5 linked regions of the Homo sapiens genome follow. The protein of the gene in region 2 purifies or fractionates together with the protein of the main gene of each other region. This does not show direct contact. Each region holds a gene or a part of one and is shown on either strand. Other genes may lie near its edges.

Evidence for each region.
Region 1: the proteins of PPIP5K1 (region 2) and ZC3H15 fractionate together in Homo sapiens (co-fractionation; one large-scale study listed by BioGRID). This does not show direct contact.
Region 3: the proteins of PPIP5K1 (region 2) and NUP88 purify together in Homo sapiens (co-immunoprecipitation; one large-scale study listed by IntAct). This does not show direct contact.
Region 4: the proteins of PPIP5K1 (region 2) and MYH14 purify together in Homo sapiens (affinity purification with mass spectrometry; one large-scale study listed by BioGRID and IntAct). This does not show direct contact.
Region 5: the proteins of PPIP5K1 (region 2) and ZBTB8B fractionate together in Homo sapiens (co-fractionation; one large-scale study listed by BioGRID). This does not show direct contact.

What each region holds. Positions count from the first base shown.
Region 1 is NC_000002.12:186,489,260-186,495,860, reverse strand, and holds part of ZC3H15 (zinc finger CCCH domain-containing protein 15), read right to left. Parts: intron 629-6,601; coding exon 527-628; intron 1-526. UniProt on the Homo sapiens protein: Protects DRG1 from proteolytic degradation. Stimulates DRG1 GTPase activity likely by increasing the affinity for the potassium ions.
Region 2 is NC_000015.10:43,531,490-43,537,207, forward strand, and holds the end of PPIP5K1 (inositol hexakisphosphate and diphosphoinositol-pentakisphosphate kinase 1), read right to left. Parts: intron 4,766-5,718; coding exon of another isoform or gene 4,646-4,765; intron 3,988-4,645; coding exon 3,185-3,987; 3' UTR 1,986-3,184; downstream 1-1,985. UniProt on the Homo sapiens protein: Bifunctional inositol kinase that acts in concert with the IP6K kinases IP6K1, IP6K2 and IP6K3 to synthesize the diphosphate group-containing inositol pyrophosphates diphosphoinositol pentakisphosphate, PP-InsP5, and bis-diphosphoinositol tetrakisphosphate, (PP)2-InsP4.
Region 3 is NC_000017.11:5,388,339-5,394,939, reverse strand, and holds part of NUP88 (nuclear pore complex protein Nup88), read left to right. Parts: coding exon 1-49; intron 50-3,277; coding exon 3,278-3,379; intron 3,380-5,979; coding exon 5,980-6,138; intron 6,139-6,601. UniProt on the Homo sapiens protein: Component of nuclear pore complex.
Region 4 is NC_000019.10:50,209,170-50,215,770, reverse strand, and holds part of MYH14 (myosin-14), read right to left. Parts: intron 5,409-6,601; 5' UTR 5,406-5,408; coding exon 5,001-5,405; intron 1-5,000. UniProt on the Homo sapiens protein: Cellular myosin that appears to play a role in cytokinesis, cell shape, and specialized functions such as secretion and capping.
Region 5 is NC_000001.11:32,490,437-32,497,037, reverse strand, and holds the end of ZBTB8B (zinc finger and BTB domain-containing protein 8B), read right to left. Parts: 3' UTR 352-6,601; downstream 1-351. UniProt on the Homo sapiens protein: May be involved in transcriptional regulation.

The sequences.
Region 1 (6,601 bases), on a different chromosome or scaffold from region 2:
TATACTTATCAGATTGTAACACATTAAAAAGAACTTTAGTATCTATTGCTCATGTACTACAAATGAAAATGTGAAGTACTACAGCCTCTATGGAAAGTGATCTGGCAAATTTATAATGTTAAAATTAGAAATCCATTTCCCTTGATCTGGAGTCTGTTACCAGCTAATTTATGCCACAGAAATAAAAGCATAAACACATGTAAGAACTCCTGTATTTCTACAGGTGGTCTTAGTGTCAGAAAGCTGGAAACAAAGTGATCACTTATGAACAGTGAAATAGATGAATATAACACACCTGTACTGTAGAACGGCATGCAATCATTATTAGAATAAATGAGAGTTATATCAAAATGGCTTGGACAATATCCAAGAGGTACTGCTGGTAAGGAAGGCCAAGGTGCAAAAACATTTCAAGTAGGATTCTGTTTTGAAATACAATTATATAATAATACCAGACATTTTATCTGAAACAGAGGCTATATTAATATTACATTTATAAAAAGATATGGACATTTAAATTACTTACCTGACGTGGATTTTGTTGACCAAATTTAACTTGATGTGTGACAGCCTTGATAAACTTCTGTTGCTTTGCTCCTTTCTTATTCTTCAAACCGAAAGTTTTGTCCTACATGAGAAAGAGCACAGAAATATCTTAGCAATTTATGTTACCATATATATCCTCCAATGATATCTAAAAATCATTATTTTTATTGATAATTATTCTTTACTAATATAAAAACATGCAAAACACTAAACATCAAGTCAAGGCAATATATGACCTTAAATCATCACCCAGATTCTTTACAATTCAATATGTACTCAACATTATCATCATTAAACCTGTTATTCTATGAAGCTTTTTAAATTTTATTATTTTTATATATATTTTTTATTATACTTTAAGTTCTAGGGTACATGTGTACAACGTGCAGGTTTGTTACATATGTATACATGTGCCATGTTGGTGTGCTGCACCCATTAACTCGTCATTTACATTAGGTACATCTCCTAATGCTATCCCTCCCCTCCGCCACCCCACAACAGGCCCCGGTGTGTGATGTTCCCCTTCCTGTGTCCAAGTGTTCTCATTGTTCGATTCCCACCTATGAGTGAGAACATGAGGTGTTTGGTTTTTTGTCCTTGCGATAGTTTGCTAAGAATGATGGTTTCCAGTTTCTATGAAGCTTTTTCTAAAGCATATTTTGGATATCAGTTCTATGGGATGTGCAAAGTTCTTATATTGGGATAAGAAGTCCTGTAGTTAAATACATTTAGGAAAATGCTTGATTAAAAGGATTCTTAATTCTTAAGCACAAGGTATCTTACAGCCCTTATCAGAGGGAATATAATAATATGCAGCACCTCCAAATCATCCTTTGTAGCAGAATCCATTTTTACTCAGAGTATCTTGAGAGGTTATACGATACTGAACACATTTTTGGGACTACTACATAAGAAGAGGAAGATACATTCAGTTCTGGACTGGTTTTTTAGTTAATAAATGTTATCCTCTCAAAAACAATTAAATTTAATAAAGAAATCAAACTACTGAAATGTATACATTCCTAGTTATTGCTAAGATGGAAATACTAAAAGTATGTAAATTAAAAGCAACATTTTCTTTAAATCTGGAATATTAATACAGTAACTTGGTAATATTCAATATAACAGCAGCTATCACTTATGGAATGCTCATTATGTGCTAAGCACTAATGGTGATCCTTGGCTATCTACTCATATTTAGTAAGTATGCAGTATGGGGTTGGGGGGAGAAAAACATTAAAAAAAATAAGTATGCAGTACAAAAACATATAGAAGCCATTGCACAAGTATGAGCAAGCGTGTGTGTGGAGGGGAGCAGTGGTCTGTAGTGGGCTGAATTTTGGAATGTCCCCCAAAATTCAAGTCCACCTGACCATAAATTTGACTTTATTTGGACGTAGGTCTTCACAGATGTAATGAGTTAAGATGACATCATACTAGATTAAGGTAGGCCCTAGATCCAATAACTGGTGCCTTAATAAGGACCACACAGGCACAAAGTGAAGGAAATGTGAAGACAGAGTGACACTGCTATATAAGCCAAAGAATGCCAAGGATTGACAGATGCCACCAGAAACTAGGACAAGGCAAGGAAGAATTCTTCCCTACAGTCTTCAGAGGGAGGGAGCATGGCCCTGCTGACACTAATTTCAGACTTCTAGCCTCCAGATCTCTGAGAGAATAAATTTCTGTTGTTTTAAGTGACCCAGTTTGTAGTCATGTTACAGCAGTTCTAAGAAACTCATATAGCAGGCTTGACTAGTGAGCTTCTCCCTAAGGTGAATGTGTGACAAGCCTGACAAGAAACCAAATGCTAATATCTGAAATATTTTTTCTGGGTCTTTTCTGGTTCTCTGGAGAAAGATCCTCCAGCTGGGAGGGCAATAAGTCTAACTGTAAACAAGAGAAAAGAGCAGGTAGAAGGGGTCTCAGTTTACTGTACAGACTTACTAGCTTCCATTTTCAGGCTCACATCCCACCTCCTCTGTGCTTAGTGTTCCAGAAGCAGAGAGGCCTGTTCTCTGCCACCTCCCACCTCCAAGAAGACCCCTCCTGTTTCTTGCAGAGGTAGTCACCTGGCTGAGCTGTAGTAGATAAGAATTATTAATTACTCCTAACACTTTTAACTTCTAGTTTTCAGCCTCTTGCCTTCTGTATTACCTAGTGCTTCCCATTGTTGAGTTTTTTTTTTTTTTCATAATTTTGCAGAGGAAATGCACTTGCTTCTTACAGGCACACTCCTAGACAGGCACTCAGACATAACCGCTCTGCTCTAAGTCAGTTACCAACTCATCCATCTACTGCCAATCTTCATATGCTGAGGTCCAAGATTACAGATGTCTTCTAATTTCAAAATAGAATTTGTATTTCTTTCTCATTCTCTTGTTTATGGGTGGTTTTAGAGAGGAAGAAGAGGCAAAAAGGTCTTCTCAAAGTAATTTGAGACCCTCTGAGTGGCATTTAGTATGAAACAAGTGGCCATTTTATAGCCTTTATTTTGCTATTATTTCTAAGGGAAAGGAAAAGTAATAATGAGTAGAAAGAATAATAGATACAAAATACCACCACGTGGACAAGCTAGAAAAAGAAAACAATAGTACTGAAACAATTAGTATTTAAAAACATACAACATGACATAATGTTTACAGCAACCTCAAAATCAGTAAAAGATCTTTCAATAGTCTTAAGACAAAAAAGTACAGAGGGTTTTGCTTCTAAATGGTTATCTCTCATTGGGAAATATCTCTTTATTCATGACATCTATATCCATATACCAAAACTTTGCTTTCCTCTACTTAAATGCTTGTTTCATGATTTAACATCCCAACATGGTATTATACAAAATTCTACATGAATTTTCTACAGCCTATGTGTATGAAAAAAGGTAAGAAGCACAAACAAGCTGGATGTTTCTGCACTGAGCCTTTTACGGATGGCTTCCCTTGTTTCTATAAAGAAAGTTTAACACTCAATTCAATTTGAAGAAAGATGGTCAACATAATGTGATACATACAGATGAACACAGTGCAGCAACTAAGTATAAAATGCCATACTTTTCCTTTACAAAAAGTGAGCTCTCACGGGAGGGAGAGGAGGCTCTAGAAAAAAATATGATCAGGATTAAACAGCATCTACAGGTGCTCTGCCAGAGAAAATAAACTGCGGTTCAACCCATGCTCCATCTGTAACTACAGAGAAGAAACAATGAATAAATAAGGCCAAATAGCAAAGCAGATACTGCCAGATAGACTTAGGAAAGAAAAATGTCCCCTAAGGGGACCTGGCCAGTAAGAAAAGAAAGCACTCACAATGGCAGTTTCTGGTAAAGGTGTATAAACTCCCGATCCCAGAAGAAGAAAAAAAAAATCAGGTTTCATTACACTGCTCTGGCACATAAATAACCAGTTTAAAGAGATAATAAGTGAGTTGTGTTCACCTCTAAGTTAGAGCTCAGAAATTAACATTTTTCCACAGAGAAAGGGGACACTTATTTATCTAGTATTCACTAAACATAAACATAACCCCTGAATATATACTTTATTGAATCCTCTCAACAATTCTATGATACACAGAAACTCAGAAATGATAAATTCATTTGAAGTTAAGTCATTAATAAGGGGCTGGCTGTATAGTGCAAGCATTTAGAAGCATAAACTCTGGAGCCAGACTGCCCAAATTTTAATCCCAAACAGAGCTGGGTAAATTACCCTCTTTGCCACAGTTTCTTATTTGTAAAGTGAGTCTCACTTAGGGTTGTTGTGAAAGTTAAAAGATTTACCTCAGAGAGACAGTGGTGGACAGCAAGGACTCTAGAGGCAGACTTCCTGTGTTAGAATCCCTGGCACAGTTACTTGCCAGGTTAGTAAACTTGGGCAAGTTATTTAATATCTATGCCTGTTTTCAAAACTGCAAAAAGGGTAATAATACATATCCCACTGAGAGAATCAAAGGAGCTAGTATATTTATCACTTGTAGTTGGCTTGTCTCTCTTCTCTCCTTCTCCCCAAAACACTGAGAACCTTGTCTGGGCCAGTAAATGTTAACTATTAAGTGACAGATGATATTTGAACCTAGGTATATTTGACTCCAAGCAAATTCCTTCTACAGTTTTTAATAAACTACTTCCCAGAGAAACCTCATTAAGTTATTGGGCTGGTTGGTGCGCAATAACCTTTCTAAATATCACACTGCAGATCTGAGATACCAATAGCACCTCTTGAAAACAGAATGATTTGCAATTTGGAGAAGTTCAAAAAGGCTTCTTCCTGAGTTTAGGACAGAGCCCTACCTAAAGATTAACCTGAATTACAAGGTAGAAAAAAAGGAGGTTACAGTCAACCCCAAACCACAGTTAAAATAAAACTAGGAGAATAATGGTCCTCATTGGATTAATAAGGTCCCAAAAGTTAACATGATAGTAAAGGAACTGCGTGTTTATGTGTGTTTCAGAAGACAACTTGGGACATGAATACAGAGGAGTCTCGAAAGAAAAGGATGACTTCCTGAGGCTCCAAGAGCCTTAACACTCAGTAAATTCCAGGCTTCACTTAAAACTTCCCTCCCATCCGTACGTAATCCCATTCCTTTTACGGGCCAGCCTCCACTGCTTAAATAAGATGTTTGGAAAAAGGGAAGCAGCGGAAGGGCAGGTCAACACTGAATAGTGCTCCAAGATAATGGAGTCTACCCTCTTGGGACATTCGGGTAGGCAGAAGCTGTCACGGTTTTCCCTCATTAGTTTTCTCCCAAATGCACTAATGTATTCTTGTTGTCCATCCATGCAATATATATTATGCAACTGGTTAATCCAGCTTCAAGTAATCAACATTTGATTTTGGCTATTGGTAGCTGTTCTACACTGGCAACCAATTTCTCTTGCTCCATCTTTCACGACACCTGGATCCTGTCTCTATAGGTCCCTATTACTATTTCCTTGCTGATACAAGTTCTTAGCTGGGTATCTTTTATTTGCTTGCCCTAAGTCCAAGATTATTTCCTTCTTTCCATATTCAAACTTTCTATTGCTCAATACTGACTCCATTTGTCACTAAATTTTAGTTGTAAGAAAGCAAATGGTATATGCCATTTCAGACTAATGTGTTAATTTCTAACAGAACCATAATCCTGTTTGACATATTCATTTCGGAAAGTATTAATACAAATGAATTCATAAAGTTTTGGGGCATTTGAAGAGGCAAATAAAAAAAATGGAGGCAATATTAAAAAATGGAGGCAATATTAAAAAATGGGCAGGAACTAAGCACTGTATAGACTGTGCAGATCAGTCTGATGTCCCCTAGTTTTTATTTATAATACACTATCAAAATAGGCAATAACAATAGCTGCCATTTACTGAATATATACACCATATGGCAGGCACTTTACATGTATTATCTCATTTAACTCACGGGAACTAGCTGCATTTTGCAGATGAGAATTGCATTCCAGCTAGATTTTGTAACTTGTCTAAAACTATAGAGCTAGTAATTTGAAACATGGGACTCAAACCCAGGTCTCTGACTCCAAAGCTAGTGTTCCTTTCATTAATTTATGCTATCTGATGTCTCTTTTACTTCCTTAGAGTTCCCAAAACCTGCATGTTGATTTTTCCACAGTGAAGGTCCATAGAGGTGGCAGCAGAACAGGTACAGAAGAGGAAAGAGGTAGGTAGGACAACCATTATTTTCAAGTCTATTGAAACGTGCTGCTTAAAAATACATGTTTTAGTTAACTATTAATTTTGAGCAATTTAGAATTTCAGGTCATACAGCTATAAAACCTCCCAAAGTTAACCAGATTCTGAAATAAGTATCAGTCTTTATATGTCAAAATAGACTATAAAAAAGTAGTATTTCCCCCTCCAAAATTATAACAGTCACAGAGATCAATTATCTTCTTGGAATAGTCACTGAGACGTGCTAGGCTTTTAGGGAAGTTTAAAAAAAAAGTTGCCTATATAATGAAGCAGACTATATCATTTCCTAACCAGGCTGAATAACAGAATAGTCTCTATAAATCTAATTTCACAAATGCTGTAACTTAACACTACAATTCA
Region 2 (5,718 bases):
TCTTCCTAGCTCCACCCTCCCCGTGCTGCTGTGTTCTGCTCCTCCCCACGCTTCCCTGCTATAGTTCCCAGCTGCTGTAACGGAGCCACCTCCAACTCTAACAATAAACCAAGTTCATTGCAGATAGTGTAGTGCTGCTTAGGCTTTTTCTGACTCCATACATGCTTAGTTACTGGGCCCTGGCTTCTACCTCTCTGCTTCAACCAGTATTGAATTTATCTTGGAAGACTCCAATGCTTTTGATTACTGGAAACACTTGTGCCTGAGTATGAAGAATAGGAGCCTAGGGTGGATACATACATCTGGTCTGGGGGAGGGAAGAGGGGCAGAAGGCCTCCTGGGAAGGGGATATGCATTCCGTGGGGTCAAGAGTTGAGGACCAAATAACCAGGATCAGCTACCCTGGACAGCCTCTTGGGCTAAAGGGGTAAAAAGCTGAAGGACCCTAAGAGATCCAGAGCCTAATGAGGTTGGAAACAACTCTCCTTGTGCAGTCAGGATTTCCATGGAGTAAAACGGTCGACTTTCCTCCTCCATGGAAACCCTTTATAGTCCTAAGTATGTCAGAAGTGGCCAGGTTATGAATGTGTATATTTGGGGAGGGGCATATTCTAGCCCTCCCACTGTTCTGGGCTCTCTCATGGTAAAGATGTCAAAGGAGCAGAGAAAGGGCATAGCCCCTTTATATAAACTCCTCCTGACACTCCATCAGAGTGAAAAATTAACAGGATGATTCCAAGAACTTGGTGAGAAGGCATGTACCCTCTGGTGCTTCACAGAGAGGGAACCTCTTTCCAGTCCCCCATCCAACACTCTACTTACTCAATAAAGACCTTTTGGGGACCGGGCGTGGTGGCTCACACCTGTAATCCCAGCACTTTGGGAGGCCGAGGCGGGCAGATCACCTGAGGTCAGGAGTTCGAGACCAGCCTGGCCAACACGGCGAAACCCCGTCTCTACTAAAAATACAAAAAAAATTAGCTGGGTGTGGTGACGGGCATCTGTAATCCCAGCTACTCAGGAGGCTAAGGCAGGAGAATCGCTTGAACCCAGGAGGCGGCAGTTGCAGTGAGCTGAGATCGCACCACTGCACTGTAGCCTGGGTGACAGAGCGAGACTCTGTCTCTAAATAAATAAATAAATACCTTTTGAGATAGTGGGTTAACTGCCATAGGCTCCTCTTGGGATGCCTGATCTCTCTTTTTTTTTTTTTTTTTTGGAGACAGAGTCTCATTCTGTCACCAGGCTGGAGTGCAGTGGCGCGATCTTGGCTCACTGCAACCTCCACCTCCTGGATTCAAGCAATTCTCCTGCTTCAGCCTCCCGAGTAGCTGGGATTACAGGCATGTGCCACCATGCCCAGCTAATTTTTATATTTTTAGTAGAGATGGGGTTTCACCATGTTGGCCAGGATAGTCTCAATCTCTTGACCTCATGATCCACCCACCTCGGCCTCCCAAAGTGCTAGGATTACAGACAGATGTGAGCCACCACGCCCAGCTGATCTCTATATTTTTATAGTCTATTTTTGGATGCCTGATCTCTGTATTTTTACAGCCCATTCCTGCTCAACTATAATGGCTTTTGACCGATTCAGATTAATCAGTTACAGACACAATTGACTCATAGTCGTATTCCTTTTTTTTTTTTTTTGAGACAGAGTCTTGCATTTTTGCCCAGGCTGGAGGGCAGTGGCGTGATTTTGGCTCACTGCAACCTCTGCCTCCAGGGTTCAAGTGATTCTCCTGTCTCAGCCTCCCGAATAGCTGGGATTACAGGTGTCCACCACCATGCCTGGCTAATTTTTGTGTTTTTAGTAGAGACAAGGTTTCACCATGTTGGCCAGGTTGGTCTCCAACTCCTGACCTCAAATGATCTGCCCGCCTTGGCCTCCCAAAGTGCTGGGATTACAGGTGTAAGCCACCGTGCCCAGCCTATATTCATTCTTGAATTCACAAGGACATCACCATCATCCATCACCACCATTCTCATTAGTTTATATTTATTGAGCACTCATAATGTTCCAGCCCCCGACTCCAATGACCGCATTACCCCTCCTACCCACTCCCATTCCCATCCCTGGATCTTTGGAAAAAGCTTCATAATCATATCTGGCCCTCAGACACAATGATATAAGGACAAATTTCTTGGGGACCCTGCAGTGTTTGGTCTTTGGCCAGTCTGTCCCTGGCACAACTACAGAAATAAATATATATATATATATTTATTAAACCTTTGCTTGTATCTGTACAATATTGATCTCTGCTGATTGCTTAAAATAGAACCTGATTATCTCTACTACTACAGCATCTCCTAAGCCAAACAGCCCCACCACAGAGGAGGCCCACTTTCACAGACTGGCTAAGAATCCTCTAGAGCATTTTAAGTAGTTGCTCTGAATTTTGCACAGCAGTCTAATACCTACTTTTCCCTAGAGCTATTGCCCAGAGGAACAGGACTGAGGCAGAAGGGGCACTTGGGGATGATATGGAAGGATCTATAAGGCAAGTCTAAAGATTTAGTGGCCATGTCAGATGTTTGGGGAAGGGACTCTATTTTCCAGACATTTCAGATAGCCATCCCGGGCTCACCTGAGGAGTGCTGGCAAAGACAAGAGTCCCCTGAATGCACATATGGTCTAAGCGTACCTTGAGAAGTCGTGAACATTTCCCCAGAAAAGTGAAGACCCTAGAGTCCCCTCTTTTGCATTTGCTGTCGCCAGATGGTGTCTTCAGCAGTGAAGCGGCATTTCCTTTAACAATCTGTGATTTCCTAGGATGCTCAGAGAAGGCTGGGTAATGACAGACCAACCCACCCCAAGGAAATCCTATTCAAGTCTAATGGCTAAGTGAGGAGCCAATGGCTTCTTCGAACCTAAAACTGGCTCCTCCTCAACCACAGCTCTGGCACAGGTATGCTTCATACAAAGAGAACTACTTCCCCAGACACCGCTGGTGAGAGCTGGCCAGTGAGTTAGCCAACAGAAAAGGTTGCTGGCTCAAATGGCTGGTATAGTGTGATACCACTAATGAGAAAATTAATCACATGTTGCTGGTGGAAGGGGTGAGTGCTGGTCATGGGCTAGAGACTGGCTCTGAGGGTTTGGATCACCAGATGGATGCTGGGCTTGAGGAATACCCTCTCCAGGCAGCTGATCAATCACTTCAGGGACCACCCAGGACTTCTAATTTATCTCCTCAGGGACCTCCTGGGCCTGCAGATCAATCTCCTCAGGGAACTCTTGGGATGGTTTATCAATCTCAGGGATGCCCTGAGATAACAGATTGATCGCAGAAGTCTCCTGGGCCAGCCTGCCAACCTCCACAGAGAACTCCTGGTATGGCTGGATGACCTCCTCAGGGATCTCTTCAGCTGGGCTGCCAACTTCTACAAGGGTTTCCTGGACCAAGCTACCAACCCCTACATGGAACTTATGGACCAGCTTGCCAACCTCCACAGAGACCCCCTGGCATGGCTGGCTGACCTCCTCGGAGTTCTCCAGACATAGCTGGCAAACTTCCTCAGAGACTTTCTGGCACAGTTGGCTGGACTTCTGGCATGGCTGGCTGATGTGAGGGACCTCCTGGCATGTGTGGTTACCATTGTCATGGTTCTCCTGGCATTGCTGGCTGATGTCAGGGACCTTCTGACATGGCTGGCTGAGCGCCTCAGAAATGTCCTGGCATGGCTGGCTGATGTCAGGGACCTCCTGACATGGCTGGCTGACCTCCTCGTATGGCTGGCTGGTTTCCATAGGTGGCACCTGTGGGGACTGATTTGGTTCAAAAAGCTCTTGCTCCCCTTCTATGGAGAGCTCTTGTGCTCCACTCCCAGGGGTCTCCTGGAGCAGCCCAAGGCCTTGATGTTCTTCAGCCACGTGTGAATTTAGGGAGGGTTGATCACTGAAGCCAAATTGGGAGTTACCATCTACTGTAGTAGGGGAAGAAGGACCAGCACTGGACACAGTGCTAGAAGGGCCACTGCTGTCTGTAAAGCAAAGTCAAGAGATCAAGTTAGAGAAGCTGGAAGAGTAGGCTCTACCCTGTGCAGATAGTTCAAATGCTAGAATTGTTGGCCTATGCTACTTATGTCTTGAGGGAAGAGTGTCCAAATTCTTCCTAAGTTAAGCAGAGACTCCTAAGTTTGCTTACCTCAGGAACTGTCACCCTGGCCTAATGTATACTTTGAGAGTAACAATAAGGTACATCTAAGACTTCAGGAGAGAGTGCTAAGACCCACTTCATCTGGTTCTTTCACAAATACACTCCCATCCCAATTCCAAGTTCCCAAGGCCTCTCATTCCTACTTTGGAAGCATATGAATACTTTAGCCCAGTGGTTCATAAACAAAATCATGAAAAAATTTTTTAAAATACTAATTTCCAGTTTTCAACTCCAGAGATTCTAATTCTATAGGTTTAGCGTAAAGGTGTAGTTTGGAGGAGGGAGGAGGAAGAAGGCAATATAATTTTGTTGGAACACTCTCATTTGAATCTGATGTACACCTTCTGTTAAGAATCATTCTTTAAAGCAATCAATGTATTTCTGGGGCAGAGGTAATCATTATTTATAGCCCAAATGATAAGTTGGCAGAAGAATGTAGAAAAACCATGTAAATCAGAACAATAGGAAAGAAAATGGTTTACCTGGCTGGGTGCGGTGGCTCACGCCTGTAATCCCAGCACTTTGGGAGGCCGAGGCAGGCAGATCACTTGAGGTCAGGAGCTCTAAACCAGCCTGGCCAACATGGCAAAACCTTGTCTCTACTAAAAATACAAAAATTAGCCAGGCGTAGTGGCGGCTGTCTGTAATCCCAGCTACTCAGGAGGCTGAGGCAGGTGAATCACTTGAACCCCAGAGGTGGAGGTTGCAGTGAGCCGAAATTGTGCCACTATACTCCAGCCTGGGCAACAAAGCAAGACTCTGTCTCAGAAAAAAAAAAAAAAAGAAAATAGTTTACCCAAAAATGGAAGATGGCCATGGAATTTCTACATGGCAGTTCTTAACCTTTCTAGGGGTCAGTGGCCCCTTTGAGGTACTAAGTCAGATATCTTCCAGGAAAAATCTATATAAGAATATTCACACTAATCTTTACATGTGATTCCTGAAGCTCACAGACCCTACCCTGAAACCACATCTATGGATCCAGAGTTAAGACGCTTGTAAGTCTTGGGACATACAATGTTACAGGCTTGTGCATATTATATACACGGAAAACATTTAAAAACTGATTTCCTACATCCTGACAGTAGTGTAATAAAGACCTCAGAGTCTTCAATTACACTGTGGGATGATTCCTACTCCATCCTCTACTGCTTCATCGCCCTCTAGTACTTGACTAACCTACTTTTCCCTTGGTAAACATCATTTTTGTTGATAATATTATAACGATATATTAAAGCACTATGGTATCAATAATGACAGATTCTGGGAAAAGGGAACATCAGAACATATTGCCATTGAAGAAAACCTTGAAAAGTTGGTAAACCTGAGCCTACAAAGGCTCAATCCATCATTGAGTTGAAGGTATGCTAGTTATCTCTCTTCTGTAAACAATCAAAGGAGGGGCTGGACACGGTGGCTCATACTTGTAATCCCAGCACTTTGGGAGGCCGAGGTGGGCAGATCACAAGGTCAGGAGTTCGAGACCAGCCTGACCAACATAGTGAAACTCCTCCTCTACTAAAAATACAAAAAAAAATTAGCCAGGCATGGTGGC
Region 3 (6,601 bases), on a different chromosome or scaffold from region 2:
AGAAATGCTTTGTTGAACACATCCTTTGTACGAAGCCATTGCCCTGCAGGTAAGGACTCTCCCTCCCTTGTATATCAGAAAACAATTGTTCATTTCAGCAGTTCAGATACGTTTGTATCCGTTACACTCACATCCACAGTATTCACTGCTGAGTCATTTGAAAGTTGCAGACGTGATACTTCTCCCCTAAGAGTGTCCTGCTCATCAGAAGCTTTCTCCTCTCCAGGGCCACTCGACATACTGTTTCCTGACTGGAAGGTCCTTCCCCAGCCCCAGCCCCAGCCCCAGCTTGCTGTCTTCTCTTGGCTAACTCCTACCCTTCTTTCTGATCTTAATGTCACTTCTTCACAGAGAACACCCTTGACTCCCCAGTCTAACTTGGGGCTCTCCTATTCTCTTATCCATTGTAGCACATATTACACTATTTATATTTGCATTTTTTTAATGTCTGTCGCCACTACCGGAATGTATATGTTTCATGAGAGCAGAGACTGTGTCTGCCCTTCACTGCATTGCTGTGTTTATTTGATGTGGTTGCCCATGTCTCCTCTTTGAAACACATTCTCCTTGGCATCCTTGACGTCTGTCCCTCCAGGTTCTCCTTCAGTCCCGCCAGCAGCCCTTTTCTCAAGTTTCCTTCTTGGGCGGGTTCCTCTGCCTCTACTCACTGCTTATAAGTAATGCTCACAACTCTTTCCTTGGGTCTTCTCTATTCTTTCTAGGTCCTTTCCTGAGTAACTTCTGCCGTAATCATGGCTTCAGTGCTGACAGTTCCCGCATCCATATCGCCCTAGCCCAGACCACTCTGAACTCCAGATTCACATACCCAGCTGCCTACTGGGCTCCTCCACTTGGATATCCTATAGGAACATAAAACTCCAGATGTCCCCTTAACTCATCTTCTGTCTTTCCAAATCTGCTCTCTCTCCTGTGTCCCATTTTTCTGAAGGGTGCCATATCACCCCAGTTATCCCCAGTAGAAACCTGGAAGGTATTCTAGATACCTCCCTTTATTCTGTTCATCAATTACTAGATATCTCATAAGCACTCTGTTAGACATGGAGTATACACAGACATGAGACAAATAGCATACACTAAGAAATAGACATAATCTAGGTTTGGCAATACAGAGGACCACAGGGAAAACGCTTGGTGGGGAATGAGAAGGATAGCAAACTGTACCAGCTTGAAAAGTGAACAGTGAAACCAGGCACTGTGGCTTACGCCTATAATCCCAGCATTTTGGGAGATCGAGGTGGGTGGATCACACGGTCAGGAGTGCAAGACCAGCCTGGCCAAGATGGTGAAACCCCATCTCTGCTAAAAACTACAAAAATTAGCCAGGCATGGTGGCAGACACCTGCAATCCCAGCTACTCGGGAGGCTGAGGCAGGAGAATTGCTTGAACCCGGGCAGCACAGGTTGCAGTGAGCTGAGATCATGCCACTGCACTCCAGTCTGGGTGACAGAGTGAGACTCCATCTCAAAAAAAAAAAAAAAAAAAGAAAAGTGAACAAGGAAAATACATAATAAAATCCCATGTAGGCTGGGCATGGTGGCTTACACCTATAATCCCAGCACTTTGTCAGGTGAGGCAGGAGGATCACTTGAGGCCAGGAGTTTGAGACCAGCCTGGGCAACATAGTGAGACCCTTTACAAAAAAATTTAAAAATTAGCTAGGTGAGGCCAGGCGTGGTGGCTCACGCCTGTAATCCCAGCACTTTGGGAGGCTGAGGCAGGCGAATTACTAGGTCAGGAGTTCGAGACCAGCCTGGCCAACGTGGTGAAACCCCGTCTCTACTAAAATACAAAAAAAAAATTAGCTGGGTGTAGTGGCGGGCACCTGTAATCCCAGCTACTCAGGAGGCTGAGGCAGGAGAATCGTATGACCCTGGGAGGTGGAGGCTGCAGTGAGCCAAGATCATGTCACTGCACTCCAGCCTGGGCAACAGAGTGAGACTCCGTCTCAAACAAAAAAAAAAATTAGCCACTGTGGTAGCATGTACCTGTGGTCCCAGCTACTCAGGAGGCTGAGAAGGAAGGATTGTTTGAGCCCACGAGGTCAAGGCTGCAGTGAGTCGTGATCGCACTATTGCACTCCAGCCTCGGCAACAGAGTGAGACCCTATCTCAAAAAAACCCCAAAATCCCATTTATATCAATTTCAGAAACAGGTAAAATTAAACAGTCTTGCCTAGGAGTGAATACATAGATAGGAAAACTATAAAGCAAAGCAAAGACATGATATTATGAATGTCAGAGTAGCGGCTACTTCTCTGGGGAGTGAAAGGCTATGACCAGGGAAGGTCGCATGGGAACCCTGAGGCCCCCTGCAGTGTCCTGATTCTTGACCTGGATACTGGTTACATAGTGTATAGCCCAGTAGTGTGTAGATTTCACACTGATAATAAAAAGTTAAAGTTTACAACCTTCCAGATATCGTCTCCATGTCTTGTCCAAAAAGGTAAATGGGAGCTATGGAAGGGGAACTAGTGTTTTCAACTGCTGTTTAAAGACTGCTGGTTCTAAAGGGATGGCGAGAAAGAATAGGTTAAGGGGAACTGGACATTATATTGAAATGAGAGTATTTTAAATGGAAGAGACATGAGTTTGCAAGCTGAGGGGAAGTAGATAATAGGGAGATTTTGAAACGACACAGTTGATGGTACAATTTTCAGAAGGTGTGAGAGGAGGCGGCATCCACATTCGGGGGCAGATGTGTGTTGTAGGCATGCAGGTGGGATGGGCATGGGAGCCGCTAGGAGAGCATGTTGGCAGAATGACAGTTCCCATCTGAGGTCTCAGTTTCCAGTGTCTTCACTGAAGTGGGAAGGAAGACTGAGAGAGATACACGCTGTGCGTGCCAAGTGATTTCCTGTGACATTGACATTGGGCCTCATTGAGAGAGACTCGGTAGTTCTGTTCATTCAACAGTTTCTAAGCACTTAATTTGTTAGCACTGGGCTAGGCAAACAAAGATAGCTGGGGCTTATGTGCAAGTTGGAGAGATCTTCAGTGTAACGTGTAACTTTTGAGATTACAGTCAGCAGCACGCTACAGTTAGGGATTCCTGAGTGACTTAGTCACATGGGCTCTAGACTTTAGTGTGGAGCTGCATTAAAGGTTTCCAAGCCACCACTTTTGAGGTTATGGTACTGATAGGATGTCCCAAGCAACTTCAGCCCAGGCCTGAGAAGGCCGCGGACCTGTCATGTCTTTGCTCTTGGTTCCATTGCATTTGCTGCTTTGTAATTTAACTATGACTGTGTTTTTCCAGGCAGCCAGCTCCAATTCGAGGATTTTGGATTGTACCTGACATTCTGGGACCCACGATGATCTGCATCACCAGTACCTATGAATGCCTCATATGGCCGTTATTGTACGTCCCATTTTATATTCTCCACACAGCTCTTGTTAATTCTGCAATATCTAAGTTGGGAAAATGCACTCAGTAACCAACTTGAAGCTATACATGTGTGGTTTATACTTTGGCTTCTGACTTGAGGGTTGGAAGGATGGATATTTCTGTTCCTGCCATCATCTCTATAAGGTTTCATTGTAGGTATAGTTTCTGGCATCCCCTGCACCTAGCTGAGAGTCAGGAGCTTTTCTTCAGAGTGTGGAGAAAAAATACTAAAATTGAATACCAAATTCCATTATCGATATGAGTAATAATTATCAAGCTGTGACCATACGCCAAGCTCAGAAGTAAGCCACGTACCCGCACTGCCTCCTGGAATCATCAGGGCAGCCCTGTAAGGAAGGCACTGTCATTTCCATTTTATAAAAGTGGAAACGGGGATCGAGAGGTTAGTAAATGCTGAAGTCACAGGTAACAAATAGAGCTGGGATACAGATGCAGGTCTCATTGACTCAGAAGTCCATACTCATACTCTTTAATTTCTCCATCTCTGCCAGCCTGAGGGACACTGTAGACTATGTAAACTGGAATAAAGCTGAACTCAGGCTGGGTGCAGTGGTGGTTCATGCCTGTAATCCCAATGCTTTGGGAGGCCCAGAGTTCGAGATCAGCCTGGGCAAAACAGTGAGACCCCCATCTCTACAAAAAACAAAAAAATTAGCCAGGCATGGTGGTACACATCTGTAGTCCTAGCTGCTCAGGTGAGAGGATTGCTTAAGCCCAGGAGTTTTAGGCTGCAGTGAACCATGATCATGCCACTGCACTACAGCCTGGGTAACAGAGCAAGACCCTGTGTCTTTTAAAAAAAAAAACAAAAAAGCTGAACTCTTAGTCTTTGCTCCTTTAAGGAACTCAGATAATTAAGCTGTAATCACTATGTTCCTTTTCCAACAGCCCTGGAAGATCATTCTGAGTTACATAAATGTAGGAATATGAGTACCAAAAACAAAAGTCACTGGAGCTTCAAACACTAGACAACACCCCCACCCCTTGTCCGTTCAAAGCTTGCACCTCTGGATGCTGACATAAATTCCTAATACTGGCAGTAGTTTACTGTCCTTAGAGGATCTTCCATAGTCTTTGAAGCTTGATTAAGTTGTACTATCTGGATGTAAAAATAAATATAAATTTTGTGTTATTTACACTGAAGGCACTAAAAGCTAGCAAGACCAAACAAAAATAATAAAATCACTGGAGAAAAAATTACCTGTAAGTTACCTCAGCATACTTTTTAAACACCCACAGTACATTTAGTAAAATAAAACCTAGTCACACTAGCTTACTTCAGAATAAATATGAATCCCAAAGGGGAAAAATAAACATTAATTGTCTGGATATTTTTTTTTTTTTTTTTTGAGACGGAGTTTGCTGTGTTGCCCAAGCTGGAGGGCAGTGGCACGATCTCAGCTCACTGCAACCTCTGCCTCCCGGGTTCAAGTGATTCTCCTGCCTCAGCCTCCCTAGTAGCTGGGATTACAGGCGCACACCACATGCCCAGCTAATTTTTATATTTTTAGTAGAGATGAGGTTTTGCCATGTTGGCCAGGCTGGTCCTGAACTCCTGACCTCAGGTGATCCACCCACCTCGGCCTCCCAAAGTGCTGGGATTACAGGCATGAGCCACCGTGCCAGGCCAATTATCTGGATACTTTCAGATCATATTTCTGCCAACTCCCTGAAATACAAGTTGTCTATAAAGTTATGCTATTTCATGAACTTTCACTTTTTTTTTTTTTTTTTTTTGAGACAGAGTCTTGCTCTGTCACCCAGGCTGGAGTGCAGTGGTGTGATCTCAGCTCACTGCAACCTCCGCCTCCTGGGTTCAGGCGATTCTCATGCCTCAGCCACCCAAGTAGCTGGGATTACAGATGTGTGCCACCACACCCAGCTGATTTTTATATTTTTAGTAGAGACAGTTTTACCACGTTGGCCAGGCTTGTCTTGAACGCCTGACCTCAAGTGATCCACCTGCCTCGGCCTCCCAAAGTGCTGGGATTACAGGCGTGAGCCACCACGCCCAACCAAACATTCACGTTAGAATTGTTGCCTTCAGAGTAAGTCACTTGCCATGCTGCCGAAGTCTGTGAGATCTTTTAAGCTCTTTTTGAAGTTTGAGTATTTGCACTTGACTGAATAGTTTTTAGAAATGAAATTATATAGAACCAATATGGTATATACAGCAGTTTCTTGGCTTAATATTGGTTTTGATCAACTCTAAACCTAACAAATAAGTAATTTATGTTTGTGGCTCCGGCTTATAAACTGGCTTTCAAGTCCTTTGCCAAGAATCCATGCTAGGTGTTTGTGCTGCCTTGATCTTTTAGAAAAGAACTGGAAATGGCAGTCAGAAATGCTTTCACAAATCAGGGGCATTGGAATAATAAGGGTGTAGCTTCCCAAAGTGACCTTTTCAAGGTGGAAAACATGCATTCTTGCACTTTTACAAAAGTTACACTTTATTTTATATTCTGAAAGTTCTGGATTAATGTGGTTTCTGCTTTCCTGTAATACAGTAAATCACTCCATGGTAGAATTCAATTTACTTACTTATTTTGCAGAAGTACAGTCCATCCAGCGTCTCCTCCCCTGCTTTGTACTCGAGAAGATGTTGAAGTGGCAGAGTCTCCCCTCCGTGTTCTGGCTGAAACCCCAGATTCCTTTGAAAAGCATATTAGAAGCATTTTGCAACGTAGTGTTGCCAATCCAGCATTTTTGAAGTATGCAACCTTGGGCATAGCGGTTTTATGAATGGGTTCTCTTCTGTCTTCAGAATTACTGTGCATCCTTTCTGTCCTCATCTGTTTCATATACTTTTTACTGTGATAAATTTGGAAGAAACTGGATATATTTGATCAGCTAGTGAATGGGGAGCAGGAGGGAAGTGGCACCTGAGAATGATAAACAGGAAGTGTTTAAAAAGAAGTTAGGCTAGGCCGGGCGTGGTGGCTCACACCTGTAATCTCAGCACTTTGGGAGACCAAGACGGGTGAATCGCGAGGTCAGGAGATCGAGACCATCCTGGCTAACACAGCAAAACCCCATCTCTACTAAAAATACAAAAAAAAATTAGCTGGGTGTGGTGGCAGATGCCTGTAATCCCAGCTACTTGGGAGGCTGAGGCAGGAGAACCGCTTGAACCTGGGAGGCAGAGGTTGCAGTGAGCTGAGATCCCACCACTGC
Region 4 (6,601 bases), on a different chromosome or scaffold from region 2:
CACAGCTCACTGCAGCCTCTACCTCCTGGGCTCAAACAATCCTCCCACCTCAGCCTCCCAAGCAGATGGGACCACAGGTATGCACCACCATGCTTGGCCAATTTTTAAAATTTTTACTTTTTGTAGAGATCAGGTCTCACTATGTTGCCCAGGCTGGTCTTGAACCCCTGGCTCAAGTGATCTTCCCACCCCGGCATGCCTGGGATTACAGGCATGAGCCACTGTGCCCGGCCAGCAGAACTGTTTTAAGCTCCCAGGGAGCTTGAGCTTCTCAAGCACAGTAGGGTGTGGCCACCACAGGCTGCCTGGTCCCAGGTGCCAACCTTCTAACGGTGGGAGGGTGGGTGGCCTGGGTGGCCAGCCAGGAGCAGAACAACCGGTTTGCTGGGTGTCTGCCCTCCCTGCCTGAAAGGGCTGCTCCGGGAGCTCCCCCCAGCTCTCAGAGGGTGGGGCGGCCGGACCACATTCCCTGGGAGGGTATCTCATGGCTGCCGGCGCCCCGGCCCCCACTCCTGGCTGGCGGAGGAACCCACTCCCCACGCCACCCTCCCACCCTGGCCCCTCCTGCCAGCCACACCTTGTTTCCAGGGCGACACCCTGGGAACGGAAACCTGAGCTGGTCAACAAGGCTGGGGGGAAGAACAAAGGCTGGTGCACCCCCACAGGGTGGGAGACAGCTGGGGAAGCCCTCCTGGAAGGGTCAGGAATGGCTGCTCCAGCCCTCGGGGCTCTGAAGACAGACCTGCCCCCCCGCTCCCCTCAGCCTGGTGACTTTCCCCATAGTCTCAGTTTCCTCCTTGGGAAACCGAGGGCGACACTCCCCACCTCATTACAAAGGCTGTGGGGATTAGGGGAGATCATGGATAAAAACCAGCCAGGCCGAGGCGGGGCCCATGCAACACACGCCAGATATGGGTCTGGAGACTCTTACATCACTCATCCTACCTGGGAGCCCTAGGCTAACTCGGAATTTTTTGGACGGGGGCGGGTGGGACAGAGTCTGGCTCTGTCGCCCAGGCTGGAGTGTAGTGGCACGATCCTGGCTCACTGCAGCCTCAAACTCTCAGGCTCATCACTCAGACTTTGAAGCCATCCAGTGTTCAAATTCAGATGCAGCATTTTTGAGCTGTGTGTGAATTTGAATGAAGGATGTGTCCTCTCTAAACCTCAGTTTCCAGCCCTGGAAAATGCGGCTTTTAACCCATCACCTAGAAGTGTTCTGAGTGTGAAATCACATAATGCATCTTCCGTGTTTCTCAGAGCGGGGTGTTCTACGAAGGGGTTCCCTCCCTGCCCCAAGGGTCCCAGGAAAGGGACTGAGACTCTTAGCAACTCAAAGCCAAACAGCCTATTAGTGGCAGAAACTGGGTTTCTGGAGCCCTGGATGTCCCACTTTTCACTGGACAACACCACCATCCCCATCATCAGTTGGTCAGTCAACAAACATGTATTAAGCACAGGTCTTAAATAGGGCAGAGTTTGAATCACACCTGTAACATTTTCAGGCCAGGTGGCTCCAGCAAGCAACCTTTCAGGGTCTCAGTGTCTTTAGCTAACGGGGACAGAAATAGTGCTTCCTACATAAGGTGCCTGGGAGTCATCCACAAGTTCATGTGGCATGCAGAGGGTTTAATGTGAACCCCAGCTGGGCACAGCAGTGGCTCAAGCCTGTAAATCCAGCAGTTTGAGAGGCCCAGGCAAGAGGATCACTTGAGTCCAGGAGTTTGAGACTAGCCTGGGTAACATTGTGAAACACTGTCTCTACAACAAATTAAAAAATCAGCCAGGCTTGGTGGTATGTGCCTGTAGTCCCAGCTACTTAGGAGGCTGAGGCAGGAGGATCACTTGAGCCCAGGAGGTTGAGCTGCAGTGAGCTGTAAGCATGCCATTGCACTCCAGCCTGTGTGACAGAGCAAGGCTATGTCTAAAACAAACAAACAAACAAAAAACAGAACATGGACCTTGAAACACTGCATGCTCAATATTTTAGCCACTATCAGCTTCTGTTGGGCAAATGGCTTCCCCTCTCCAAGCTGTGGGAAAAAGAGGGTGATAATCCCTACCTCACAACCTTATGTGGATGGGGAGGGGGTCAATAAGATCATATTGGAAAGAAATTTAGAACAGCACCCAGCAGAGAAAGCAGGTACTCACTAAGTGCTAATGATCTTTATTAAGGCCCAATGTGCTTCCTGTCTGGAATTCTAGAATCTTCTCTCTCACATTCATTTCTTAGGCCCCAAAAGTCTGGCTCCCTGGCCACCACCTTAGCTCAGGCCCTACCACTTTTTCTCCTGAACTTTCTGAATAATCTTCCTAGTGCAATGGCTAGGACCTGGGGTCTGCAGTCACAGTGACCTGGTTTCAAGTTCTAGCTTAGCTGGTTCCTAGTTGTGGGGCTTATGTTCAAATCCTGCCCCCTAGTCTGAGGCTCAGCTTCCCCACCTGCAGAGCGGGGATGACAGCAGATACCTTACAAGGTTGCTGGGAGCGCTCAGAGTATTTATTAAAAGGCAAAGAGTGGCCGGATGCAGTGGCTCACCCCTGTAATCCCAGCACTTTGAGAGGCTGAGTTGGGCAGATCACTTGAGCTCAGAGGTTCGAGCTCTGACAAACATGGTGAAACCCCAACTCTACTAAAAATACAAAAATTAGCTGGGCCTGGTGGCAGGCGCCTGTAGTCCCAGCTACTCAGGAGGCTGAGGCAAGAGAGTTGCTTGATCCCAGGAGGTGAAGGCTGCAGTAAGCCAAGATCATGCTGCTGCACTGCAGCCTGGGCAACAGAGTGAGACCCTGTCTCAAAAAATATATATAAATGAATAAAAGGCAACTAGTGGATCCATGTTTTGGATGTCATCCTGATGTCTGTGGCCTTGGGTGAGATGTGGGGGAGTGGATCATGTAGAGGCCTCTTTTCCAGGGCTAGTAAAGGTGTTTGAGGATTTGGAAAGGGCCAGTGCAGACTGGAGAAGACACCAACCCCATGCAGGGTCCGACAGCCCTCGATTCAAATTCCACACCTGCCACCACAAGCTGAGGGACCCTGAGCCAGCCACTGCTTATCTCAGAGCCTCGATCTCCAAGTAGGAGTGGGACTTCACAAAAATATTCTAATCTTCCGCTTTGTGAACCTCAGAGGGGTGGATGTTGGAGCAAAGCTGTGAGACCCCACCAGTCTAAGCTAGAGTTTGGAGCATGACTCTGGAACCAGCTGCCTGGGTTCAAATCCTGGCGTGATTCCTTCATGGCTGTGGGTCACTTAACATCCTGAACATCAGGTGATATCAGCAGTCCCTGGCCCAGAGGGAAGCTGATAACTCACACGCCACACTTAGAACAGTGCTTGGCACATCACGAGTGCTCGATTAAATATTTGCTAGCCTCCTCTTATTATTATTTTTCATTATGATTGTCCATATTCCTTGTCAATCTCTCTAATCCTGTTTGCTCTTTTGTTCAATGAAATTAATAACCCCTTGGCTGCCCATTAGAACCTCCTTGGAAGCTTATTAAAAATACCAATGTTCATGTCACAGCCCCAGAGAGCTCGACTGAAAGTTCTGGGGTGGGGCTCCGTCACTGGTATTTTCTAAGAATTCCCCAAATGATTCTACCATAGAGGTGGGGTTAAGAACCACTGCTCTACCCCATCCGTTTGCTGTAAAGAGTTTTAAAAATGCAACGAACCTCCAATGCTTAGCACAGACGTGGGAAGACTACCATAGTCAACCTAAGTATCATCAATCTCTTCTCAATGGGTTTTTGTATTGTTTCGTTTTGTTTGAGACAGGGTCTTGATTTGTTACCCAGGCTGGAGTACAGTAGCGCCATCACAGCTCACTGCAGCCTCCACCTTCAGGGCTCAGGTGATTCTCCCACCTCAGCCTCCCAAGTAACTGGGACTACAAGAGTGTGCCACCATGCCCAGCTAATTTATTGTATTTTTTTTTTTTTTGCAGGGATGGGGTTTTGCCATGCCCAGGATGGTCCCGAACTCCTGGGCTCAAGCAATCCACCCACCTCAGCCTCTCAAAGTACTGAGATTACAGGCATGAACCACCATTCCCAGCCCCATCTCAATCTTAAGAGGCACCACAGCAAAGTGAGAAGACAGACTACCTGGCTCTGTCAGGTCTAATTGTGTGACCTTGAACTCTCTGTGCCTCAGTTTTCTTACCTGTAAAATGAGGATCAGATGCTTTATAATTCTGAAAATGTACAGAGGCAATGTATTTTAGAAAGCTTGGAAGAATGGTTGGTAAATGTTTAATAAATGTTCATTTTTATTGTTATTAACTCTCTCTGGGCCTCATTTGCCTCTTAGGTAAAATGGTAATAATAATAGACTCTATCTTTCCTATGGTGAGATTGAATGAATTAATAGATAGGCATTTAGCACAGAGCCTAGCATAAGGTTTTTGCTTTTTGTCTTTTTTTGAGACAGGGTCTTGTGCTGTCACCCAGGCTGGAGTGCAGTGGTATCATCATAGCTCACTGCAGCCTTGACCTCCCGGGCTCAAGTGATCCTCCTGCCTCAGTCTTCCTAGAAGGTGAGACTAAAGGCACGGGCCACCACCACACCTGGCTAATTTATCTTTTTTTAAGAGATAGGGTCTCGTTTTGTTGCCCAGGCTGGTCTTGAACCTCAAGCAACACATTTCTATACTCAGTGATTCACATTAATGATTGTCACACATCTGTTTCCGTTCCTTAAAACTCGGGATGAGCTATATCTGAGAAATTGGAACGTTTTATACTTTAGGAAAATAATACAGTTTATCTACCATATGTATCATGCAATGTCCCCAGTAGGTTCCGAGGCTGTCCTAGTAATCCAACAATTCATAATTTGGCAACCATGTAAGTGTAGGAACAGTCACGGGACATGGGATACAGATGATAAACAGCCTCAAGTTAATGCAGGGGAGCCGGGTGGTGGACCTGGTTCCCCAACCGGCAGCAACTCCGCCGCACGCGCCCCCCAGCAGGAGCCCACTCACGTAGATGAGGCCGGAGTAGTACCGCTCCCGGAGGTTGTGCAGGACCGAGGCCTCGTTGAGGCAGGTCAGCTCGGCCATGTCCTCGGCCTTGCTGAACTTGGGCGGGTTCATGCGCTGGATCTGGTCCCGCGGCAGTCGCAGCCGCCTCCCGCTCTCCGCCAGCTCCACCTCCGCCTCCTCCTCGCCTTCGTCCCGCAGCGCCGCCGCCTCGAACCCGTGAAGCTCCGAAGGCACCCACACGAGACGCCGGGCCGTCCACTCCACCTGCGGGGAGGTGCCCGAGCCAGGCCCGCCACCCGCGCTGGGCCCGCGGGGCGTGAACAGGAACGGCTGGGCCGCCTCGGGCACTGGGCCCGGCCTGGGGGGCGCCTTCCGCCCGGGCACCGACATGGTCACGGCTGCCATGGTCTGCAGGGGCAAAGAAAGAGGGTGGGGGTCAGATGGGGCTCCGTCCCCCGGGCCTCCCTTCCCTACCCCAAATTCCCCAGGCAGCCACCTCTGCCTTCCTTTACCAGACCTCTTGCCATACTTCTGCAAAGTGGGTTAACAGACCCAGCTTACTCATTTCATTCATTCACCTCTCTAGGCACTCATTCATTCTTTAATAAGCTAGGCTGTGAACCAGGCTCAGAGGGTCAGTTCTTTTTTTTTTTTTTTTTTTTTTTTTTTTTTTTGAGACGGAGTCTCGCTTGTTGCCCAGGCTGGAGTGCAATGGCGTGATCTCAGCTCACTGCAACCTCGGCATCCAGGGTTCAAGTGATTCTCCTGCCTCAGCCTCCCAAGTAGCTGGGATTACAGGCGTCTGCCACCACGCCCAGCTAATTTTTGTATTTTTAGTAGAGACAGGGTTTCACCATGTTGGCCAGGCTGGTCTCGAACTCCTGACCTCAGGTGATCTGCCTGCCTCGGCCTCCCAAAGTGCTGGGATTATAGGCATGAGCTACCACACCCGGCCCCGGCTAATTATTTTCTTTTTTTTTTTTTTTTGAGATGGAGTCTCACTGTGTCGCCCAGGCTGGAGTGCAGTGGCACGATCTCGGCTCACTGCAAGCTCCGCCTCCTGGGTTCACGCCATTCTCCTGCCTCAGCCTCCTGAGTAGCTGGGACTACAGGCGCCTGCCACCATACCCGGCTATTGTTTTCTATTTTTAGTAGAGACAGCGTTTCACTGTGTTATCCAGGTTGGTCTCGATCCCCTGACCTGGTGATCTGCCCGCCTCGGCCTCCCAAAGTGCTGGGATTACAGGTGTGAGCCACCGCGCCTGGCCAATTATTTTCAATTTTTGTAGAAATTAGGGTCTCACTATGTTGTCCAGGCAGGTCTTGAACTCCTGACCTCAGGTGATCCACCCTCTTCAGCCTCCCAAAGTGCTGGGATTGCAGGCGTGAGCCACCACTCCTGGCCAGGCTCAGTTCTGGGCACTGACAATGGAGCAACAGACAAGCTGGAAGAAGACGCCTGCCTCCAAAAGTTTACTTTCTAGCCCCGGGCTGTCCACTGCAGAAGCCACCACCACCTGTGCACTACCGGGTACTTGCAATGTGGCATGTGTCACTGAGGAAACACATTTTCAATTTCATTCATTTAAATTCAATCTATT
Region 5 (6,601 bases), on a different chromosome or scaffold from region 2:
TTTTTTCCTATTACTAAATGAAGTTAATGAGTCTTTAAACAGATGGAAACATATTTAGTGTTAGCAGTTCTATATTATTATGGGAATCCTTTAAAAATTTATAGGCTATACATGTTTTTCTTAAGAGCAGGCAGCGAGCCCAGCTAATCTTAAATAAACCCAGCCTCAACATTTAAAAAAATGTAAAATTATATCAATACATTGCTGAAACTAAACCAATTTTGTCTTCAAAAGAGAAATATTTGAAACTGTTGTTTAAGCAGAAATAATTTTTAAAATAAAAATATGCACATATGTCTTAAAGATTTATATAAAAAATGGAATGCCAAACAACTGAAAGGAGAAATCAGATTTAGATTATATCCACGAATTTATTCTCTCGTAATTTTAGTTCTTTATATATAAAAAAGTAAAAACAGCAAAACAATACAACCTGGGCAACACTGACCTATATAAACAGACCTGGTACATTACCACTTAAAAACCAATTCAATTCCAAAAAGCAGAAACTGTCTTACTTGTTAAACAAGGTATCAGTTGCTATTTTTTTAATGGTCAAGATGATTTCCAACTCTGGCTCCTCTTTTTAATAAATATGTTTTGACAAGTGCCTTTGTAATGAACTAATCCATTTGCAAACTTGGCAGGCAAAGATAAAGTCAGTTTCTGTTTTTCTTCCGAGAGCTGTTGGACAGTGTGTAACTGTAGAGCTCGGCACGTAGAATGGCTGCACTTCCTGTGATTTTTGAGTTGTCTGCCTTACTTTTTTCATACATTGCATCATCAATTACCCATTCATCAGACAGTAGTCAGTCTTCTTTCACAGAATCTAAAATGTCCCAGCTTGGGATAGTCTGCCAGAAATTGTCTCGTATTACTAAATTGTTGGTCCTAAGACCGTGGGACAAAAAAGTGGGAAAAACGGTTTGATGGAAGCTTCTTCTGTTTAGAGCTCTAATAGTTCTCTTTATTTTGTGGGGTTATTTTTTTCCTTAACTAAAATCTTGTCCATAAAATTCTCCATTAGAATTTTATATAAAATAATTGCCCTGAGAAAAACAGTAACTAAAATTATGAAGGGTTATTCACTCATTAATGTGAGACGATCCTCAATTCCTTATTGCATTCATTCAATTAAAAAAAAACCTTTTTTTTTGAGACAGGGTCTCATTCTGTTGCCCACGCTGGAGTGTGGTGACATGATCCTAGTTCACTGCAGCTTTGAACTTCTGGGCTCAAGCAATCCTCCTGCCTCAGCCTTTGGAGTAGCTGGGACTACAGGTGTACACTACCACACCCAGCTAACAACTCATTCTAAAGAAACTGTTTTAACTATTTTAACCTTAGCCATTTTAAATTTATAGGTACCAAATTCAGGTCAGCTTCAAATTTGGGACGGTACAGAAAATAGTTAAATTGTATTTGTTTCCGAGGACAAAATGAGCAACAGAGGAACAAAGGACTTTTTCCTTTGTTGAGGCCACTCCTATTCTAAACTTGTAACTAGGGTGTTTCAATCTGACTGTATATAAATCAAAACAAAAATTTAGCTTGAGATTATTTCCATTTACTCCCAGGTTGATTTAACCAAATTAAAGATAATTTGCATTTTTGATGGCCCTAAGTTAATTTTAATCCCAAACTAGATAAATATTTCATTAAAAACCAGGAATACTGCATCTAGGTATTTTTAGATTAAGTGGCTAATCTGTTTTTCTAATAATTCTTATATATAATTGCAGCCCTTTAAATAAAACTAGCTTTTGCAGTAGACTGATTAAAATCCACTGAGTCAAGAAATACCTAAGAATACATTTTTACTCAATACCATCTTATCATGTGGGCTGCTGACTTAAAAATATGTGGTTTTCTGTTTCAAATAAGATTGTTCTTGTTACATTCCCTGAATCACACCCAATTTATATTTCAAAAATCAGTTAGAGGCCGGACATGGTGGCTCACACCTGTAATCTCAGCACTTTGGAAGGCTGAGGCGGGTGTATCACCTGAGGTTAGGAGTTCGAGACCAGCCTGACCAAAATGAAACCCCATCTCTTCTAAAAATACAAAAATTAGCCGGGCATGGTGGCATACCTCTGTAATCCCAGCTACTCAGGAGGCTGAGGCATGAGAACTCTTTGAACTCTGGAGGCGGAGATTGCAGTGGGCCGAGATTGCACCACTGCACTCCAGCCTGGGTGACAGAGTGGAACTCTGTCTCAAAAAAGAAAGAAGGAAAAAAATCAGCGAGGTTGGAAAAAATCACTTCAAGTTAATAATATATATATTTTTACTTTTGAAATTTTTTATAAGTAAAATGAATACATTACAATCAAACACAGAACACATATTAAGTGGACAATAAATATTTTAATTTGCCTTTTGTGTGTATGTGAGTGTGAGTGTGTTCCATGGTGGTTTATGTTTTAGATATGTGTGGTATTACAGGACAAAGAAATTAACTCCCCCATGCTCAAAATGTGATTTCCCCCTCCCTGTCTAAGCATTGCAAGAATGCAGACCATAATCACACAATGCATACTTTATCATATGAGGCCAAAACAGCATTTTCCTCTCCTGTGCCTCTGGTCTGATGGATACCCAGGGAAACAAATGTTATCTATGAATGGTCTTTTCTGCCTGCCCAAACATGTCTGTCTATTATCAGGACTGGCCTGGCAGGACCTGGTTTCTGATCCTAACCAGCTGTGTGAGAACTAGAAACGTCATTTCATCTGTCACATGGAGTTGGACTAGACTATCTCTCCTGTCCCTTCTAACTTTCAAATCTCTTGATTTAATGGTTCTGTCCTATATGTATCCTGATTTCTTTTTTTTTTTTTTTTTTTTTTTTGAGATGGAGTTTTGCTCTCGTTGCCCAGGCTGAAGTGCAGTGGTGTGATCTCAGCTCACTGCAACCTCCACCTCCTGGGCTCAAGCAATTCTCCTTCCTCAGCTTCCCAAGTAGCTGGAATTACAGGCTAATTTTGTATATTTTTAGTAGAGATGGGGTTTCACCATGTTGGTCAGGCTGGTCTCAAACTCCTGACCTCAAGGGATCCACCCACCTTAGCCTCCCAAAATGCTGGGATTACAGGCGTAAGCCCCGACGCCTGGCATGTATCCTGATTTCTGGGGTATTAATTAGTTCACATGGCCAGCCAAGACCCACTCCAGATGCAGTGGGGCTCCTCCCCATCTGTCACAGTACACTGGATCAACATAATGGGAAGTTATCTGTTGTTGTCATTTCATTTTTACTTGAAAAATAATTTACATACTATATTATTTTTTAAATAAGAAAACCATATTATTATTATTTTTTATTTTTTTGAGATGGAGTCTCACTCCGTCGCCCAGGCTGGAGTGCAGTGGCATTATCTCAGCTCACTGCAACCTCTACCTCCCGAGTTCAAGCGATTCTCCTGTTTTGTATTTTTAGTAGAGACGGAGTTTCACCATGTTGGCCAGGCTGGTCTTTAACTCCTGACCTCAGGTGATCCACCCCCGTTGACCTCCCAAAGTGCTGGGATTACAGGCATGAGCCACTGCTCCCGGCCAGAAAACCATATTATTTTTTAAAAAAGAAAACCACCCAGTCAGGCACAGTGGCTCACGCCTGTAATCCCAGCACTTTGGGAGGCTGAGGCAGGCAGATCACGAGGTCAGGAGATCAAGACCATCCTGGTCAACATGGTGACACGCCATCTCTTATAAAATACAAAAAATTAGCTGGGCGTGGTGGCACACGCCTGTAGTGCCAGCTACTCGGGAGGCTGAGGCAGGGGAATCACTTGAACCTGGGATACGGAGGTTGCAGTGAGCCAAGATCGCGCCACTGCACTCCAGCCTGGCGACAGAGTGAGAGTCTGTCAAAAAAACAAAAAAAACAAACCTGATGCATATTTCCTAAAGACTACAACATTCTGATATTCTATGTATAGTATATATTTTTGCATAACTGAATAAAACACATAATTTAAACACTGTTAGTGACCAAAGCCACCATGTTTGAGAAAAGGCAATAAATTTCAGCAACTGTTTAAACTGCTTATAAATATAGTATGCCAAAGCTGGAAGTTTACTGGATAGGAAGAGTAGCTTAGACAGAAAGCGTCTCTGAGGCTCTATGACTGGCTAGGTACCCGACCCACGCGTTCTCAGAGTACCCTGTGCTTGTCCCTGTTGTCACACCCAACATGCCGTGTTATAACTGCCAGTCTCTGTGATTACACACTGCAGGATCCTTGAGGGCAGGGATGGTGCTGGTTCACTGAAGTACCCTTCGTGCTTGACATACAGTAAAGACTCCATAAATAATTGTTTGATAACTACTGAATGAGTAACCAGCCATCTTCACTCATTGATCTGCTGGGAGCAACAGAAGCAGGCAAGAGTAGCACCACATGACACAGGAATAAGAGGCACGGTTTCCAAGAGCAGGCCGGACGCAGTGACTCACGCCTGTAATCCCAGCACTTTGGGAGGCAGAGGCGGATTGCCTGAGGTCAGGCCGAGATCAGCCTGACCAACATGGTGAAACCCTATCTCTACTAAAAATACAAAAATTAGCCGGGCGTGGTGGCGGGCGCCTGTAATCCCAGCTACTCAGGAGGCTGAGACAGGAGAATCGCTTCAATCCAGGAGGCGGAGGTTGTGGTGAGCCGAGATTGCACCACTGCACTCCAGCCTGGCAACAAGAGTGAAACTCCATCTTTAAAAAAAAAAAAAAAAAAAAAAAGGCACGGTTACCAAGAGCCTGTGTTTGGTGTTTGCCAGATGGCCAAAGGCTCCCATCAAAATATGACTGATGGAATACTCAGACATGTCCATTCAATAATGTCCCTACAGTACGACATACTATACTCACCTATTATGAGTGACACCAAAGGATACATGATATTTTGGCTAGGATCATTTTGACTGTTAAGCCAACTCTTACACACACCTTACCAAAATTTGCAAACTGTCTATTAATCACAAGCAACTAAGCACCAACAACACTATTCAAGAAAGGAAAAATGAGTTAGGGTGGGTTATATTTTACTAGGAAATTCCTCTGGCTATATTCTATAGGAATTAGGTGTAATATCTGTTATGCAATTGCTTAGCATAGTGTTTGGCAAAGTATTAACAAAGCCTCTTTCCCTTCTGCATGAGAATTTTACCTTTGTTAACTTTCTAGCTCTGTTCCCCTGGCAACCTAATAAAAATTCATATGTCAACTGCTAGGCAATGTTACATATGGTAGACATGATGCCCAATTGGTAAACTGCATCTGGACTGGGAGAACTATAAATGCCTGATAGGAAGCCTCAGCTCTGGGCATCCCTAAGTACAGTGACGCTTGGAACAGGCATGTCTTTTATAGGGACACTGGAGGCCATGTCTATGAAGCTGTTATAAGAGATACTTGTTCCTGTGGGACAAGGGGCTCTTAAGCCGGGGAAGCTTCCATACTTGCCCCATGTAGATCTGTCTCCTTGCACCTGCACTATGCCACACAGACAGCTGCAGAGACTTTCAGAGAAGAGCAACTGGTTCTGCCTTGCTAGTAAGCAGTGCTTCCCATTCTATATCCTTTTAAGTGAATCTGATGCCAAGTGTGGCAGTTTATAAATTTGAATGTTTCTAAACCTTCAGTTGGGCCTAAGACCCTTGGAGGGCACTGCAGTATTATTTGCATGTTTTTCTGATGGCAGTAGATGCTCCTCAGGGGCTATGGATGGTAAAAGATGTGAAACTGTTTGGTATGTTTTTCTACTTCCAAAAAAATCCTGACCATACCCTTCACTGTATGCATGACAGATAATCCATATCCATTACATGTCACCAAGACCTGTATATGAAATTGATGCCTTCCTTCAAAATCCCCAAGCTTGTTACTACTAAACCTTCCTCATCAAAGCACATAATCCCTGCCCTAACCTCCACTGATTAACTGACAAAGGTCCAGAAATCAAATGATGGATATAAAAATTGCCCCCCCTAAAACCACAATTGTCAATGAAGAATTGGCAGTAGTAAAATAATCTACCTGGAGGGTCAAGACGGATGCTAAATGTTCTCCTTCAGTTATGAAGTTTCCATGTCATCCGATCATGCAGTCATGTGAGTTACTGTCACCTTTTAAAACTAGGATATATTTAGGCCGGGCGCGGTGGCTCACGCCTGTAATCCTAGCACTTTGGGAGGCCGAGGCGGGTGGATCACAAGGTCAGGATATTGAGACTATCCTGGCTAACACGGTGAAACCCCGTCTCTACTAAAAATACAAAAAATTAGCTGGGCATGGTGGCGGGTGCCTGTAGTCCCAGCTACTCAGGAGGCTGAGGCAGGAGAATGGCATGAACCCAGGAGGCGGAGCTTGCAGTGAGCCGAGATTGTGCCACTGCACTCCAGCCTGGGCAACAGAGCGAGACTCCGTCTCAGAAAAAAAAAGAAAAGAAAAACAACAACAACAACAAAAACTAGGACATGTTTAGGAACCAACCAAACTACTCTGACCCCAAAACACTTTTCGTTTTTCTCTACAGAAACATCATTTGAAGAAAAGAATTCAAATTTCCAGCACTACAATGAAAGGTTTGTGGAACACAGT